Regions from separate parts of the Homo sapiens genome. Here region 2 is linked to region 1. The links come from fine-mapping of genetic effects on gene expression. A gene starts in region 1. The other region holds a variant in brackets. All regions are shown on one strand. Distances are from middle to middle. Region 1 holds the start of NUDT2 (nudix hydrolase 2). Region 2 overlaps UBAP1 (ubiquitin associated protein 1).

Region 1 (8,528 bases):
AGCCTGGGCAGTAGGGTGAGACTTCGTCTCAAAAAAAAAAAAAAAGCAATATGTCTTATTAGTCTTTTTATACCCAGGTTCTAAAACAGTGCCTGGGGCCAGGCACGGTGGCTCATGCCTGTAATCCCAGAACTTTGGGAGGCTGAGGTGGGTGGATCACTTGAGGCCAAAAGTTCGAGACCAGCCTGGTCAACATGGTGAAACCCCATCTCCACAAAAAATACAGAAATTAGCTGGGAATGTTGGCACACACTTTGTAATCCCAGCTACTCAGGAGGCTGACATGAGAATCGCTGGAACCTGGGAGGAAGAGGTTGCAGTGAGCCAAGATTGCGCCACTGCACTCCAGCCTGGGCAACAGAGTAAGACTATCTCAGAAAAAAATATAAATAAATAAATAAAAGAGTGATTGGAAATAATATTCAATAATTGTTTAATGAATAAATATCCCTACAGTATATTAAAACTCTATAAAAGCATTTGATATCGTTTGTGGTAACGGGTGGTAGAAACTATTTATCAGGGTAATTTGATTACTCAGGAAAATTGTGACAGAGATGCTGGTGCCCTGAGTCACTGCTCCTGGACACCAAAATTATGCAAGTTTGTATTACTCAAATGAATTGATATGGACACAGATATGGTTACAGTTCCAAGAGGAAACTTTATCCAATCTTCAAGAAATATTTTTTGAGAGACTTGTATGAGATAGGCCCTGTTTTATGCACCAGGAATATAAGTGAACAAAACAGACAAGGTCAGCCAGGCACAGTGGCTCATGCCTGTTATCCCAACACTTTAGGAGGCTGAGGGAGGATTGCTTGAGCCCAGGAGTTTGAGATGAGCCTGGACAACATAGTGAGGCCTTGTCTCTACAAATAAACAAAATTAGCTGGGCATGGTGGTACATGCCTGTGGTCCCAGCTACTTGGGGGGCTGAGGTGGGAGGATTGCTTGGGCCTGGGAGTCAGAGGCTACAGTGAGCCATGATCACACCACTGCAGTTCAGTGTGGGCAACAGGGCGACAGAGTAAGAGCCTGTCTCAAGAAAACCCCCCAAAAAACAGATAAGGTCCCTGCCCTCATGACACTATTATTTTAATGGGAAGAGATAATTAATAATCAATAAGCGGTAGTTTTAGATGATGATAATCACTACCGAAGAATAAAGCCCAGTGCAGGGCTTACTTTACATTGGATGATCAGAGAAGGCTTCATTCAGAAGGGAATATTTGAGGTGAAACCTGAAATAACATGGAGTCACTTATGTAAAAATCAGGAGGAAGAGGGTTCCACGTGAGCACATTAGCCCAAAGGTGGAAATGAGCATGGCAAAATCAAGCCATCAAACACGGACAGGTTGGCTGGCATAGTAGGTGAGAAGGAGAATAGTATGAGAAGAGGAGAGAAAGGTAGGGGCCAGATTATGTAGGGTGTACTGGGCCACATAAAAGTGTCTGAATTTTACTTTTAAGTGAAGTAGGAAGTCATTAGAGGATCTTAAGTGGAGAAAGTATATGCTATGATTCGTCTTCAAAGTTCACTCTCCCAGTTCTGTGAGGAAATGGATCACAGCAGGTGGGCAAAAGTGGAAACAGGGAGATCATTTAGGAAGCTACTGCACTGAACTGACAAAAAAAAATGCTGACTTGGAAAAAATGTTTCCTTTCATGAGGGTTAATTAGAATAATGTAAATTAACTGCTACATTCAGTGTCTGATATATAAACACTCAACAATATATTATACTATTATTATTAGTTTATACCTACAGAAAACTCTTCTTATTCAACACGATATGAACATCAAAACCCTTGAGACAGTAACTTGGGAGGTATACAATGACCATACACTCAAGGTTTAAGAAGTAGAACTCTATTATTTATTTAACAAAATGTGTTGAGGATCTACACTGTGCAAATTATAAACTGGTTTGCTGAGCCAGCATAGGGAAACTGGATTAATATATCAGGCATCATAGAATACTAGATCTGGAAGGGATCTAGAAGAGTTCAGCCCCTCACTTTACGACAAAAGAGCAGCCCAGAGAAAGAAACTGTGGTTCTCCCTAAACTAAAAACTGAGAGGCTCATACCTTAGGTTGCCCCAAGGACACACTCTGAATAACTAAAGATTTTCATTAACAATATAAAACCACAAATTTTAAATAAAATGCTATCTTAGCAGTAATGTGCTACACTAAGAAAAATGTAATATGCATATAAAGCCCTGGATACAGTGCTTTGTACGGGGTGAACACTCAATAAATGGTAACTACTACTTTCAGCAGCTAAAAAAAAAGTCTGTATGGTCTTTGGAAGGCTGAGAGTGTGTGGTCTACCTGACATCAACTACTTGACTTGAGAGTAGAGCCACAGGAATTTTAATCTAATTCAATTCTTTGATTTTCCAGATGGAAAAAATGAGGTCTAAAGGGGCTAGATTCAGGCGTTCAAGGCTGCGGTGAGCTATTATCATGCTAGTGCACTACAGCCTGGGTGACAGAGCAAGACATTTTCTCTAATAAAAAAAAAATAATAATAATAATAAAGGGACTAAATGACTTGCAAAGCCACCCACAGTGAATTAGAGACAGAGACAGAGCCAAAGCCAAACCCACATGTAGTGGGTTTCCACTACATGTCACAGCTATAAGGTAGTGTTTCAAACTTTTATAAAAGGGTAACAAGAACATAGCTGCTGTACTGAACTTTTTCACTCCTTTTATTAAGGCCACCAGTGAGCTATGAATTTGATATAAGGAGCAATCACACCAACAATCAGGCTGTGAATATATAATCCATGAGTTAACAACGAAACAGTCTTAGGAACGCAATTCTATCATAGACACCTGATGAATAGATGGAGTTCACCTGAGCAGCTGTTATATGCACTTCAATAGAGAGACTACAAAGCCTCTCTACTTGTAGAATACAAGTACAAAGAAGATGCTTTAAAACATTTTCCAAAGCACACTTAAAATGTGACAATAGCTGCCGGTCACTAAGAAGCTAAAGGGAGATAAATTATCTTGGCATACAGCAACAGAATGGTTTATTTTAAGCAAAGACTAAAAGGAGTCTAATAAAATTATTGGGAGACCAAGGCTAAAAGCCACAGATGCAGGAAGAGTTGCAGCAACCAATCCAAAAAAGTTTAGCCTTTCACAAAGAGTAGAAAGGCCAGCTGTGGACTGTGTGTGGACTTTTAGGTCCTTTTGCATTGAAGATTAGGGTGGCCTCCCCCTAGCCTCGAAATAAAAAATCGTCTCTGAAGCAGAGAGACAACAAGGCAGGGCATGAAGAGGAATCCAATCTATTTCTTGTAAATTAAATTCAACTCAACAAATATTTCCTGAAAATCTACTATGTGCAAGACATTGTGAACGATGCTTGCCTTACCTCAAAGGCTTCAAAATTTTATGGGAAAAGGGAAGCGAACGGGCTTCCCGGAAGTAAACAACCCAAGGGCGAATAGAAATGCCCTAAAAGAGGTGCCGGTCAGGCTTATCGGTTCAAAAGCAAGAAGGCTTTGGGACTCAAGAGTTTAGTCTCCCAAAGTGAGAGAAGTGGCGTTCAAGATAATTGCTGAAGAAAAGGCAGAGATATGGGGATGAAAGATAGGAAAGTAGGTGAACTTTAGGAAGAGCCAAGAGGGGCCAACTCTCGGTTCCCTCACAACTGCCAGTTTCCTCCCGCGCTCAGCCGACGTCACGCGCACCCGTGTCCGCGGGCAGGCGCCACGGTTCCGGACCAGACCTACCCCTCCTCTATTCTCCCCGCCCTTTCTCACCTCGGTCCAAACTCCTCGGTCTGCCCTGTCTGAGAAGAGGAGAAGACAATGCCGTCGGGAGTGAGCCCCAAAGCCCGCAACCTAACAGTCCCGTCAACCCGGGAGCCACCGGCGGCGGCCAGGCCGCATCTCCATGGCAACGCCGCCAAGCGCCAGTTCGAACGCCCGCGCTGTGGCCCGCGCGTCGCCAGTCCCGCACCGCCCACCAATGGGCATCCAAGGAATCGGTTGACGTTCGTTGACTTCTCCTCTGGAAGACCAATCAGAGGTCTGAAGAAACCGTGGGCGTAACTCTCAATTTCCGACCTTCAGCCAATCGTTCCGCTTGAGGGAAGATCTCGCGACGTTTCAGTGTGAGACGCGCACCTTTGAGGCGGGTCGAAGATCCTTCTGCCGAATTCTATTGATGGGCCCAAGCGTAACCAGGCTCTTCTGATTGGCCGGTGTACTTCAGTTTCCGTCCAAGGTCCGCCTCCTACCTCCTTCTGCTTCGGGTGAGTACCCTTAAGGGCCCACTTGATTTTAGTTCTCAGTGGAGGAAATGAGCCTTGGAGCGATGGGAATCTGCCTCTGGCAAACCTCTGGTCGCTGCAGGGCCCGAGAGGGATGCGCCCTCCTCTAAGTTGGCAGTGAGGTGTGGGCAGGCCAGGTCCCATCCGCTCTCAGGACCTCAGTTTTCCTGTCTGCACCGGGAGAAGGGAGGTTCCCTGACTCTGAGCCTTGCTTGTCCCCGTCGGAGTGGGGATAGGGTGGGTCGTCCAAATCCCAGAGGCGGGAGAGGTCCAGGTTTAGGGCCCAGAGGCCCAGGCGCCGAACCTTCCCCTCCCTGGGCCTCAGTTTCACTTGTTGCTACCCATTAAACCCCGCCTGCTTTCCAAAAGAGATTTTATGTTTTCTAATTGCTTCAGTTATTGAATGGATAATATCGTGGCAGTTATAGCAGAAGTAAAGAAAGTCGAACAAGAGCCCCACCGCCTTAAACAAACAAACAAAAAAGGGACAGCGTAAACAATGCAGGCCGGGTGCGGTGGCTCACGCCTGTAATCCCAGCATTTTGGGAGGCCAAGGCGGGCGGATCACGAGGTCAGGAGATCGAGACCATCCTGGCTAACACGGTGAAACCCCGTCTCTACTAAACAAAATACAAAAGTTAGCCAGGCGTCGTGGCGGGCACGTATAGTCCCTGCTACTCGGGAGGCTGAGGCAGGAGAATGGCATGAACCCAGGAGGCGGAGCTTGCAGTGAGCGGAGGTCGCGCCACTGCACTCCAGCCTGGGCGACAGAGCGAGACTCCGTCTCAAAAACAAAACAAAACAAAAAAAAACTGAATGCAATCAAATTGTCAAATGTAAAACGCTATTATAGAGTTAAGGTTAAGATCATTGATGTTAGGAGTCAGGCAGACCTACATTTGAGTCACTTACCCAGACATCTCTGAGCTATAGTTCCCTTTCTACTCTTCTGAAAAATGGCAGTAATGCCTCAGCGGGTTGTTGTGAAGATTAAGTGAAATAATGAAGGTAAAGCACTTGACACAACGCCTGGCGAGTAGTAACTTCTTAAAAAATGGTAGCGGCCGGGCGCGGTGGCTCACGCCTGTAATCCTAGCCCTTTGGGAGGCCGAGGCGGGCGGATCACGAGGTCAGGAGATCGAGACCATCCTGGCTGACACGGTGAAACCCCGTCTCTACTAAAAACACAAAAAATTAGCCGGGCGTGGTGGCGGGCGCCTGTGGTCCCAGCTACTCGGGAGGCTGAGGCAGGAGAATGGCACGAACCCGGGAGGCGGAGTTTGCAGAGAGCAGAGATCGCACCACTGCACTCCAGCCTGGGCGACAGAGGGAGACTCCGTCTCAAAAAAAAAAAGGTAGCTATTATTCTTATAATAAGAACAGGCAAATACACTAGTCAGTGCGTTGGTGTACTTTTTGTAACTGAGTACCCAATTTTGCCCAAAATTAGTCAGTTAAGGGAAAAAAGGTAATTCTTACTAATAAGGAAACAAATCCATTCTTCAAAAGATAAATTATTTTTCTAGTTTCTATATTAAAAGGAATTTATGCTGTGGGACCTTATAAGGAATATATATACTGTGGTGAACAGTGTTGAGCAGTTTAACAGACAAGATGAAAAGTCATTTCTTTAAAACAGAGAAGCTTTTTGATGATCTTTTATGACACACGGGTAACAGTAACTCATATATTTAGTACCTCTGATAATGTCAGACCCTCTATATATGTCATTTATAAACTCCACAACAACCATGCAAAGTAGGTGTTAACTTCATTTTACAAATGAGGAAGTTAAGTATCTTGCTCTAAGTATCTTGCTCTATTAACTTCAATAGCTAGGCCTTTCTGACTGCATAGACAGCCATGCTTTTCTGTGTTTCTGACTAAAGGAGGATGAAAATGCTTGGAATACCAGACAGATGCAGGGGCAGGTTGGACAGCTTGACTTACCTAAATTGGAGGGAATGTGAGCTGCAGAGGTACCTATGGTAGGAGCAATATCTTGCTCTAATAGAAAATTTTCACCGTGGTCTTGGTAGAGAAGGGAGGAGAAAAAAATTGTTTTAATAAAAATAATTTTAAAAAAGTAAATTCCCACCTTGGGAAATGAAGAGATAGGATGAGATGATCACTGAACTTTAGACCCATCTGTTCATTTATCTTATGGATAGACTATAGCACTTCAAATTCAACTTGTCCCAAACAAATGCTTCACTTGCACCCCCTCCTCCACCCAGGCACTCAAACCAAAGCCTTTCTCTTTCCCTTGGCTTATGAAACATCTCTCTGTCCCTTAGACAATGAAATATCACTATTGTCCATTTTACTTTGAAATATCTCTCAGATTCATCCCTTCCTTTCCTTTCTCACAGCCTCTGCCTTGATCTAACTGGAATCATTTGTTAACTGGTCTGTTGCAATAGACTTGTAACTGGTTAATCTCTCTGCCTCCAATCTGTCCTAATTCGTTCCCCAGCTTGCTTGCAGCTAGAATATCTTTGTAAAATGTCAGTCTGACCAAATTATACCCTTGCCTAAAACCAGTCAGAGGCTTCATTGCCTACAGAATATAAACTAAGCTGTTTACCAATGAGATGTCATTTTGTGCTTGAGGGTGTTGCCCACACTCCTCCCTTTGCTGGCAGTGCCTTGCATCCGCCTCCCTTCTGCCTGGTAAACTAGTGACCCATCAGAATCCTTATGGGGTACCTTGTTAACCTAAAGATGCTTCTTTGCTGCCTTTCCATCTTACGTTGCACAAAACACACTGTAACTTGTCTGTTGGAATGTCTTCCACTTTCACTAGCCTGTAAATCTCTAGGAAGTTGGTGCTTGGTAGTATTCAGCTTCATATCTATCTGTCAATCCTTCACACTGTCTGTCGCATGGGATACGCACAACAGACAAATTCCCCGAGTTAGCTTTCTAGAATTGTACAGCAGATGGCACTAATAGGCTGCTTAACAAATCCCCTTCACTAAGAATGATTTTTGTCCCAACCTTGTCTGACTTTGGCCTTATCCTAGAAGCCAATATTTATGCCATTACAGGTAAAATCTCCTGTTTCCTCCCTCAGCCAATAGCAAAAATAACAAAATGACTCAGCAGCTTCGTCTCTGCAAGAATGGAGTGGCAGATGTCCAGGGAAAGGTGCATTTGAGGGAATATTTTCTTTGTCTCAATTTATTCATGGTAGTTGGGGCTTTTCTTTTGCATTTCTTTCTTTTTTCTTCTCTTCCATTTGTTATTGTTCTTACAAGAAAGAGCTTTACTCATGGGTGGGTGCCTCATTTCTGTCCACTCCAAAAGGGAAGAAAGAAACTGGCAAATTGGAAAAAAGATGATGATGATGTGGGAGGTGAGGGAGTAGTCACATAGAATTGCAGTCACATAGAATTGCTTGTGGGCAGGCAAACAGTTGGCTTTCCTCCTCATCTGGAGGAGGGTCTGGGCAAATTTTCTGGACACTAGTGCCCTAAGTTAAGTGGAACATGTGGTTTTAGGTTCCTACTTCCCAGAAAAGAGCAGAGGAGGCATAGAAACCCTTTTGAGATGGGTGCTATTAGGAGCCTGAGGCTACATTTTACCCCTCCTTCAGAGTCTTCTTCGGATACCAGGATTTAACATCTACGGCCCTCTCCCCCCAACTAAAACCTTTTTGGTGGAAATGATCCCAGCTAGACATCTTAACCTCCAAAGGAATATAGATTAAAGACTGGGAATTTGGGGCCAGGCACAGTAGATTGCACCTGTAATCCCAGCACTTTGGGAGGCCAAAGTGGGAAGGTCACTTAAGGCCAGGAGTTCAAGACTAGCTTGGTCAGCATAGCAAGACCCCATCTCTACAAAAAAAGTGTTTTTTAAATTTAGCCAGATGTGATGGCTCCTGCTTGTAGTCCTAGCTACCCAGGAGGCTAAGACAGGAAAATTCCTTGAGCCCAGAAGGGATGCAGTGAGCTCTTGAGGCTGCAGTGAGCTGTGATCATACCATTGCCCTCCAGTCTGGATGACACAGAGAGACATTGTCAAAAAAAAAAAAAAAAAAAAAAAAAAAAGGACTGGGAATTTTGAAACTGGAAATGATTTTATAAATCTTGTCTGTCCTCTCTCAGGGCCATTTGTGTCCTAAGCCCTACTCTTTCATGGTGAACAGAGCTATGAAAGGGACAAAAATTATAGACTTTGGAGTTAGACTTACTTGGATTGAAATCCCATCCTTTACAGG
Region 2 (8,000 bases), 120 kb before region 1:
CTTGAGATGTATTCCTTAAGATCTTTTTCAGTCTGTAGGTTCTCTTTTCATCTTGCTTTTTTTGTGTTGAAGGAAACTGAATCACTTTTTCTAAAAGTTTGCTACAGTCAGGATTTTGCAGTTTAATTCACTACTATTTTAATTAGGATTTGGGTATGTATGGATAAAACATAAATAATCAGCTAGGTGTGGTGGTACATTCCTATAGTCCCAGATACTTGGGAGGCTGAGGCAGGAAGATCTTTTGGGCTCAGGAGTTTGAGGCTGCAGTGAGCAATGTTCATGCCACTTCACTCCAACCTGGGCTGTTCAGAGCAAGACCCTGTCTCTAAAAACAAGGATCAACAAAAATTAAATATGCTTTCATTTCTGGTTCTTTTTTCTCTTTTCTCTGTCAGTTTTTGGTATCAGTGTTATGCTGATCTCATACGAGAACTTGGAATTCAGCAACATTCATTCAGCAGGAGTTACTGAGCACTACTGTGGCCGGGCACTATGCTTGGTGTAATGGTGAATGAGACAGAAGTGGTATTTGTCCTCGTAGTGCATAAAGGCAAGTGGGGAAGACAGACAATAAACAAATCCTGAATAAATTGATAAGCTACAAATATATATTTGTTTCCATTTTATGTGTTGGAATAGATTAAATAAAATAGGAATAATCTGTTTCTTAAATATTTAATAGAACTTTAAAGACATCTGTTCTGACATTTATTTTAGCATACACATATTTCATAAGCATGTGAAATTACTTAAGAACCCCTTTTCTCTCCCCATAAATCTTTGACACCGTGTGAAGTTGTTCCATCCTTATATTGTTTTTCCTTTAGGCCTACAGTGTTCCCCTGGGGATTTGAGTTTTCAAGTTTTGTGAACAAGGCTGTATTATTTCTGTGGGAAAAATCATTCAGGTTTCACATGATGGAAACAGAATGATACAATCCACTGAGTTTGAAGACTCCAGGAAGAACAAAAAATTATATTTGCAATTACTTATTTCAGGTCAAATTAATAGCTTCTAGTATGATAACTTTTTTTTGTTTTAAAATTAACCAGTTAAGAGACTGGGCGTGGTGGTTCATGCCTGCAATCCCAGAGCTTTAGGAGGCCACAGTGGGTGGATCAGTTGAGGTCAGGAGTTTGAGACCAGCCTAGGCAACGTGGTGAAATCCTGTCTCTACTAAAAATACAAAAATTAGCTGGGTGTGATGGCCCACGCCTGTAATCCCAGCTACTCGGGAGGCTAAGGCACAAGAATCTTGCTGCTGCACTCCAGAGTGCAGACGACAGAGCAAGACTCTGTCTCAAGACAACAACAACAAAAAACTGACCAGTTAGTATTGTATTAGTTACTTGTAGAGGAAAATAGTATCAAATAGTAAGGATTTTCTTATAAAAAACAAAAAAAGGGTGTGGATTGTATATACTTGCTGAGTCAAGTATACTTGTCTTTCTGAGTCAAGTAAGTATACACAGTCCACACCCATTTTTTTTTTTGAAGAAAACACCCGTTTGTTTTTATGTGCCCTCAGAATTAAGATGAAGTCTTGTGCTATCTTTTTAATATGTATAAGACTAGAAAAACCAGTGAAATTCATAGTTAGAAAATAATCTATCTCTAGTCCTTTAATTCTGGAAAGAATTCCAGAGATCATTTACTCCAGTAGTAGTCTTGTTTTATGGAAGAAGCCCTAAAAGTTCTTTTTTTTTAAATTTCAGAGGTTTTTACCCATTCTACAAGTCTTTTAATTGCCTCAGGTGCTCTTGTCTTTCTTGCCTTCTGGTATGAATTGTGATATGATTTTTGGAGTTGGGAAGGAAATTATATTTTTGGTTCAATAACTTGTTGACATTATTTTTTTGCCAACCAGTCTTTATTCAGTTGCAAGAATTAAATTGATAGGTTCGTGGTCAGATTTCCTCTTGAGGACACTGCACTGAACTCTCTGAAGAAAATACTTTAAATAAATTGTAATGAATTGGTTAAGATGCTGACTTGAAATTTCTGATTGGCTAATGCTTTAATTTTTATTTTTTTTGAGACAAGTTCTCACTCTGTTACCCAGAGTGAGAGTGCAGGCTGGAGTGCAGTGGCGCCATCACTGTTCACTGCAGCTTCGACCTCCCCAGGCTCAGGTGGTCCCCTGCCTCAACCTCCTGAGTAGCTGGGACTACAGGTGTGTGCCACCACACCTGGCCAGTTTTTGTATTTTTTGTAGAGACAGGTTGTCACTATGTTGCTCAGGCTAGTCTTGAACTCCTGGGCTCAAGTGATCTTCCAGTCTCCCAAAGTGCTGGGATTACAGGCCTGAGCAGTCACACCCAGCCCTGGCTAATGCTTTGAAGTCATGACTCCCATTCTGATTTTTAACTAGTCATTACTTTCCTGTTCTTCCATTATGGTAGTCTCACAAGACTTATAATTTCAGACTTTTTATTGGTAACTACAAGAGATTATTGTTTTAGCTTTTTCATTTTAAAGATATTGTTTTGTCTAGTTGTATTCTGAAATTACATGTTAGGTATAATTATTAGTTGTACAATTAGCTATTAAATTTTCAGAAAGTTTGAAGGGAGAGAGTAAGTGAAAAGCCACTCCTGCTAAAGATTAGACACTGTACTAGATGCTTGGAGGATTAAGAGGAGACCAGAGCTAAGGGAAATCTTTGTCTGGATTTTATTGACCCATTTTGGAATTAGCTGCAGATCTTAAGAAATCAGATTGGGTTGGCAGGACGTGGTGGCTCATGTCTGTAATCTCAGCACTTTGGGAGGCTGAGGCGGGAGGATCACGAGGTCAAGAGATTGAGACCAGCCTGGCCAACATGGTGAAACCCCGTCTCTACTAAAAATACAAAAATTAGCCAGGTGTGGTGGCGGGCACCTGTAGTCCCAGCTACTCAGGAGGCTGAGACAGGAGAATGGCATGAACCCCGGAGGTGGAGGTTTCAGTGAGCCAAGATCGTGCCACTGCACTCCAGCCTGGTGACAGAGCGAGACTCCGTCTCAAAAAACAAACAAACAAAAAACAGTTTGGGTCAATAATTTGCGTTTACAGTACTAGTTTATGTACTTATTTGTCACTTTGTAATTTTTAGGGAGTTGCTTTTCAACTGTAATCTGTTTTTATTAAACTATTTGAAATGAGCTTTGTATTCAGTCACTAGTTGTGTTTCTCCCTTCCAAGTACTAACCAGGCTCAACCCTGCTTCTGAGATCAGACAAGATCAGGAGCGTTCAGGGTGGTTTGGTTGTAGACACTAATTGCTTTGCTTATAAGCCTTAAGGATACCTTACAATTAATAACTTTGGTAAAACCTCATTTGAAAAATAAGACTAAGCCTGAGCCAAACGGCAAAATCCCATCTCTACAAAAAATTAGCCGAGCATGGTGTTGGGTGCCTGTGGTCCCAGCTACTCAGGAGGCTGAGGTGGGAGGATCACTTGAGCTCGGGAGGTTGAGGCTGCAGTGAGTCAAGATTGTGCCACTGCATTCCAGCATGGGTGACAGAGTGAGACCCTGTCTCAAAAAAAAGAAAAGAAAAAAGTAAGACTAAAATCAGTTAGTGACAAAACTTATGTATTACAGCATCTTGACTTAAAAAAAAAACAAACCAAAACCCTTCATTTTCCGAGTTTTTCATAAGCCAGGTATTTTCTTAAATTTGAAGTCTTAGAAACTTAGGTTATTTTGGCTCGCTAGCTGTATGTGTAGAGTGAAAATAGTATTTCTACATTTGGTCAGTTGCATAATGTTACTATACCTTTGATCCATCTGGAATTTATCTTGGTATGCAGTGTGAAGCAAGCATCGGATTCTGCTTTTTTCTAGGTGACTACCCAGTTGTCCCATGACTTGATTTTAAAAAGCAGCTTTATTATATACCAAATGTTTATATTTTGGGTATTTTTAGGGATTTCTACTTTGTTCCACTAATCTGTATTTGTACCAGTACGACACAGCTTTCAGTATTGTATCTTCTAATATTTTAATATCTGATAGGCTAGTCTCCATTTTCTTCGGAGATTTTTTCTTTTTTTTCTGCGTTTGCTTAATTGTTATTT[C/CT]TTTTTTTTTTTTTTTTTTTTGAGATGGAATTTTGCTCTTGTCGCCCAGGCTGGAGTGCAATGGTGTGAGCTCAGCTCACTGCAACCTCTGCCTCCCAGGTTTAAGTGATTCTCCTGCCTCAGCCTCTGGAGTGGGTTAGGATTACGGGCTCCCGCCACAGCTAATTTTTGTATTTTTAGTAGAGATGGGGTTTCACCATGTTGGCCAGGCTGGTCTCAAACTCCTGACCTTAGGTGATCTACCCACCTCAGCCTCCCAAAGTGCTGGGATTACAGGTGTGGGTCACCACGCCTGGCCGCTTAATTGTTATTTCTACATGAACTTTAGAATCAGCTTGTCTAATTAAAAAAAAAAAAAAAGAAAGAAAAACATGGTACTTCAGTTTTCATTTGCATCATGGCAAATTTGTATAGCAACTTAGAATTGATCTTAATAATGTTGAATATCCCGCTCAAGAGTATTGTATGTTTTTCTAATTGTCTAAGTTTTCTTTTGTGTCTTTCAGTACAGGTTTAGTTTTCTCCCTTTATGTCTTCAGTTTATTCCTAGTTCTTAACTGCTGTGGTATATTGGTATGTTGTGTGTTTCTCTTATATTTCTTTTTATTTATTTCTTTTTTTTTTTTAAAGAGATGGGATCTTGCAATGTTGCCCAGGCTGGACTCGAACTCCTGGGCTTAAGCAGTTCTCTTGTTTCAGCACATTATATTTATTATCTGGCCATGTATATATGAAGGCTGTTTCAGAGTATTAATTTGTTTCAGAATATTAATTTTGTATCCAGAAATAGTTTATCGTATTCTCTTGTCAGTTTTTGGGTTTTCCTGGGAAAGTTTCTTATCTGAGTTTTTATGCTTTTTATTTCTCCCATCTAATATGAAATAACAATGCTAAGCAATTGTGATAATAATGGATATCTTTGTCTTGTTGCTGTCCTTCGTGGGAATACTTCTGTAGTCTCCCCACTAGTCAGCATAATCTGGTATTTGGTATTAGTTTTTTGTTTTTTAAAACTCATGTAAAGGAGATAGCCATATGATTTTTCTTCTTTGAGCATTAATGCTGAATTATATCAGCAGAATTGTTAATGTTGGTGTTGGACTGTATTTATGCAAAAAATCTCACTTGGACATGGTTTATTCCTAAAATGTACTGGTAATTTTGGTTGTTACTTTTTTTTTTAATCAAGGATTTTCATATCTGTATTTATATATTCAATTTTTCCGAAGTTTTTTGGCACCAATATTATACTCATTTTGTAAATACAAATTAGACACTTTTCTATATTTTGGATCCATTAAAATCCCACTGGAGGCCGGGCACAGTGGCTTATGCCTGTAATCCCAGCACTTTGGGAGGCCGAGGCAGGCAGATCACCTGAGGTCAGGAGTTCGAGACCATCCTAGCCACCATGGTGAAACCCTGTCTCTACTAAAAATAAAAAAATTAGCCGGGCGCGGTGGCTCACGCCTGTAATCCCAGCACTTTGGGAGGCCGAGGCGGGCAGATCATGAGGTCAGGAGATTGAGACCATCCTGGTTAACACAGTGAAATCCCGTCTCTACTAAAAATACAAAAAAATTAGCCGGACGTGGTGGCGGGCGCCTGTAGTCCCAGCTACTTGGGAGGCTGAGGCAGGTCAATGGCGTGAACCTGGGAGGCGGAGTTTGCAGTGAGCCGAGATGGCACCACTGCACTCCAGCCTGGGCGACAGAGTGAGACTCTGTCTCAAAAAAAAAAAAAAAAATTAGCTGGGTGTGGTGGTGGGTACCTGTAATCCCAGCTACTCGGGAGGCTGAGGCGGGAGAATTGCTTGAGCCTGGATGGTGGAGGCTCAAGCCTGGATGGAGTGAGCCGAGATCAAGCTGGTTATTAACTCAGCTTCGTATTTTAGTTCTATTTTTTGAGGTGGAGTCTCACTCTGTTGCTCAGGCTGGAGTGCAGTGGCGTGATCTCGGCTCACCGCAACCTCCGCTTCCTGGGTTCAAGCCATTCTCCTGCCTCAGCCTCCCGTGTAGCTGGGATTACAGGCATATGCCATGAGACCTGGCTAATATTTTTTGTATTTTTAGTAGAGATGGAGTTTCACCATGTTGGCCAGGCTGGTCTCAAACTCCTGACCTCAAGTGATCTGCCTGCCTTGGCCGCCTCCCAAAGTGCTGGGATTACAGGCGTGAGCCACCACGCCTGGCCTGACTCAGCTACTTCTGATTTTGGAAATTTATCATGGTTTTCTTTGTGTCCTAATATTTACACAAGTTTTGTAACATGTTCTTTGGGTATTTTAAAAAGTGTGTCCTGCTTTCAAGATGCTTTTGATCTAACAATATAAATTAAATCTAGATTAGAGCTAAATTAGATTTGTTATCTATTTCTGCCTAGTTTTTGTTTCCTATCATTTTTGCCTTTTGAGTGGTAATGCTATGTTATTTGGGGCAATTCAGTATTGATATTCAGTGGTTTGCACTCTTTATTGTTAATAAAGTAAAACACAATGGTTTGCACTCTTTATTGTTAATAAAGTAAAACACCTGTTACGTACTCCATGAAGTCTATAACCTAGAGTCATTTGTATGCTTACTGGTCTAGAAACCACTGATTTATTCTTTGTTCTTTTTTCTCTCTCTGAAGTCGTTATCTTTCATTAGTTACCTATTTTTTTTTTTGTTTGTGTTTTTTCCAGCGCTCTGTTGAATTACATATTATTGTATTTCCTTTTAATCCTCTTATAGGTGCTTGTTGCATACCAGTTTTTTTCCCCCAATTACAAAGTATGTGTGTGTTGATCATAGATAAATGTATGCATCTATGCTCAGTACAGGAAACCTGGAAAACAGCACAAAAGGAAAAACCAAAAGGCTAAATTTGTGATCCCACCATTATAAAAATATCTTATCCTTATTTGTTTCCATATCCACATAAACATACTTCTCTCTTTTCCACAATGTCAGGGCCTATTAAATCTTGTTTCTATACGCTAGTGACTCCAATTTTCTTTTTTAATTTGCGATAAAACGGGTGCTTAGGAAAATCTGAACCAGTATTTTATTCCAGCTGAATTAAAAGAAATTGATGCATAAAGAAAAGCTTACTGGAGCTATTGAAATGTTCCTCAGTATGAATCAGGGTACTGTGACCTCTTGTTGGCCTTCCATTTTCAGCCAAGTACGCCGATGTGCAGCGGACAGTAATAAGGGGGCTAAGTTTTGCAAACACAGAGCTTGTGGACAGTGATAGATCCTGAAAGTAGTGTCTCTTGCTAATTCTCAGACTTAACCTGACTGAAAGCAAGGCCTCACAAATTGAATTCAGTCTTCACAGTTACGTTCTTAACTAACACAAAAAAATATTCTAATACTATTCTGTTCAAATAAAAATTTACGTTTTCTGGCCAGGTGCGGTGGCTCACACCTGTAATCTCAGCACTTTGGGAGGCCAAGATGGGTGGATCACCTGAGGTCAGGAGTTTGAGACCAGCCTGGCCAACATGGCAAAAACCCATCTCTACTAAATACAAAAAAATTAGCTGGGCATGGTGGTGTGTGCCTGTAGTACCAGCTACCTGGGAGGCTGAGGCAGGAGGATTGCTTGAACCTGGGAGGCAGAGGGTTGCAGTGAGCCGAGATTGTGTCACCACACTCCAGCCTGAGTGACAGAGGGAGACTCCATCTTTAAAAAAAAAAAAAATTTTTTTTTTTTACATGTTTTCTATAGGTATACTAGTTTACTGGTAGAGTGGTTGGAAATGTTTTGCCTTTTTGAAAGTTATATTTAATTCACCAACCTTTTTTTTTCTTTAAACACATCGTTGCTGGTTTGAATAATTTGTCAACCTTTGTGGAGCTCTTTCTGCATGTCAGGCAGTATATAAAAGTATCTTTTGTTAATTTTTATAATAAGAATCATTTGAGATTACTTTATATGTGGTATAGGGG

What was found.
Region 2: its variant is fine-mapped to the expression of NUDT2 in monocytes (Fairfax 2014, PIP 0.95).

What each region holds. Positions count from the first base shown.
Region 1 is chr9:34,325,315-34,333,842 of GRCh38, forward strand. NUDT2 (nudix hydrolase 2) reads left to right here and starts at 4,255. Exons shown (of 5, transcript NM_001161.5): 1 at 4,255-4,285. It overlaps KIF24 (kinesin family member 24), which reads right to left and starts at 3,954. Exons shown (of 13, transcript NM_194313.4): 1 at 3,792-3,954. RefSeq lists enhancers at 3,621-3,680, 3,781-3,880, 3,968-4,475, 4,011-4,200.
Region 2 is chr9:34,202,983-34,210,982 of GRCh38, forward strand. All of the region lies in intron 1 of UBAP1 (ubiquitin associated protein 1), which reads left to right. It also overlaps the pseudogene RNA5SP282. Among named protein-coding and RNA genes, the nearest start is that of UBAP1, 28 kb to the left of the region's middle. The variant C/CT (reference allele first, on the strand shown) is at 4,066.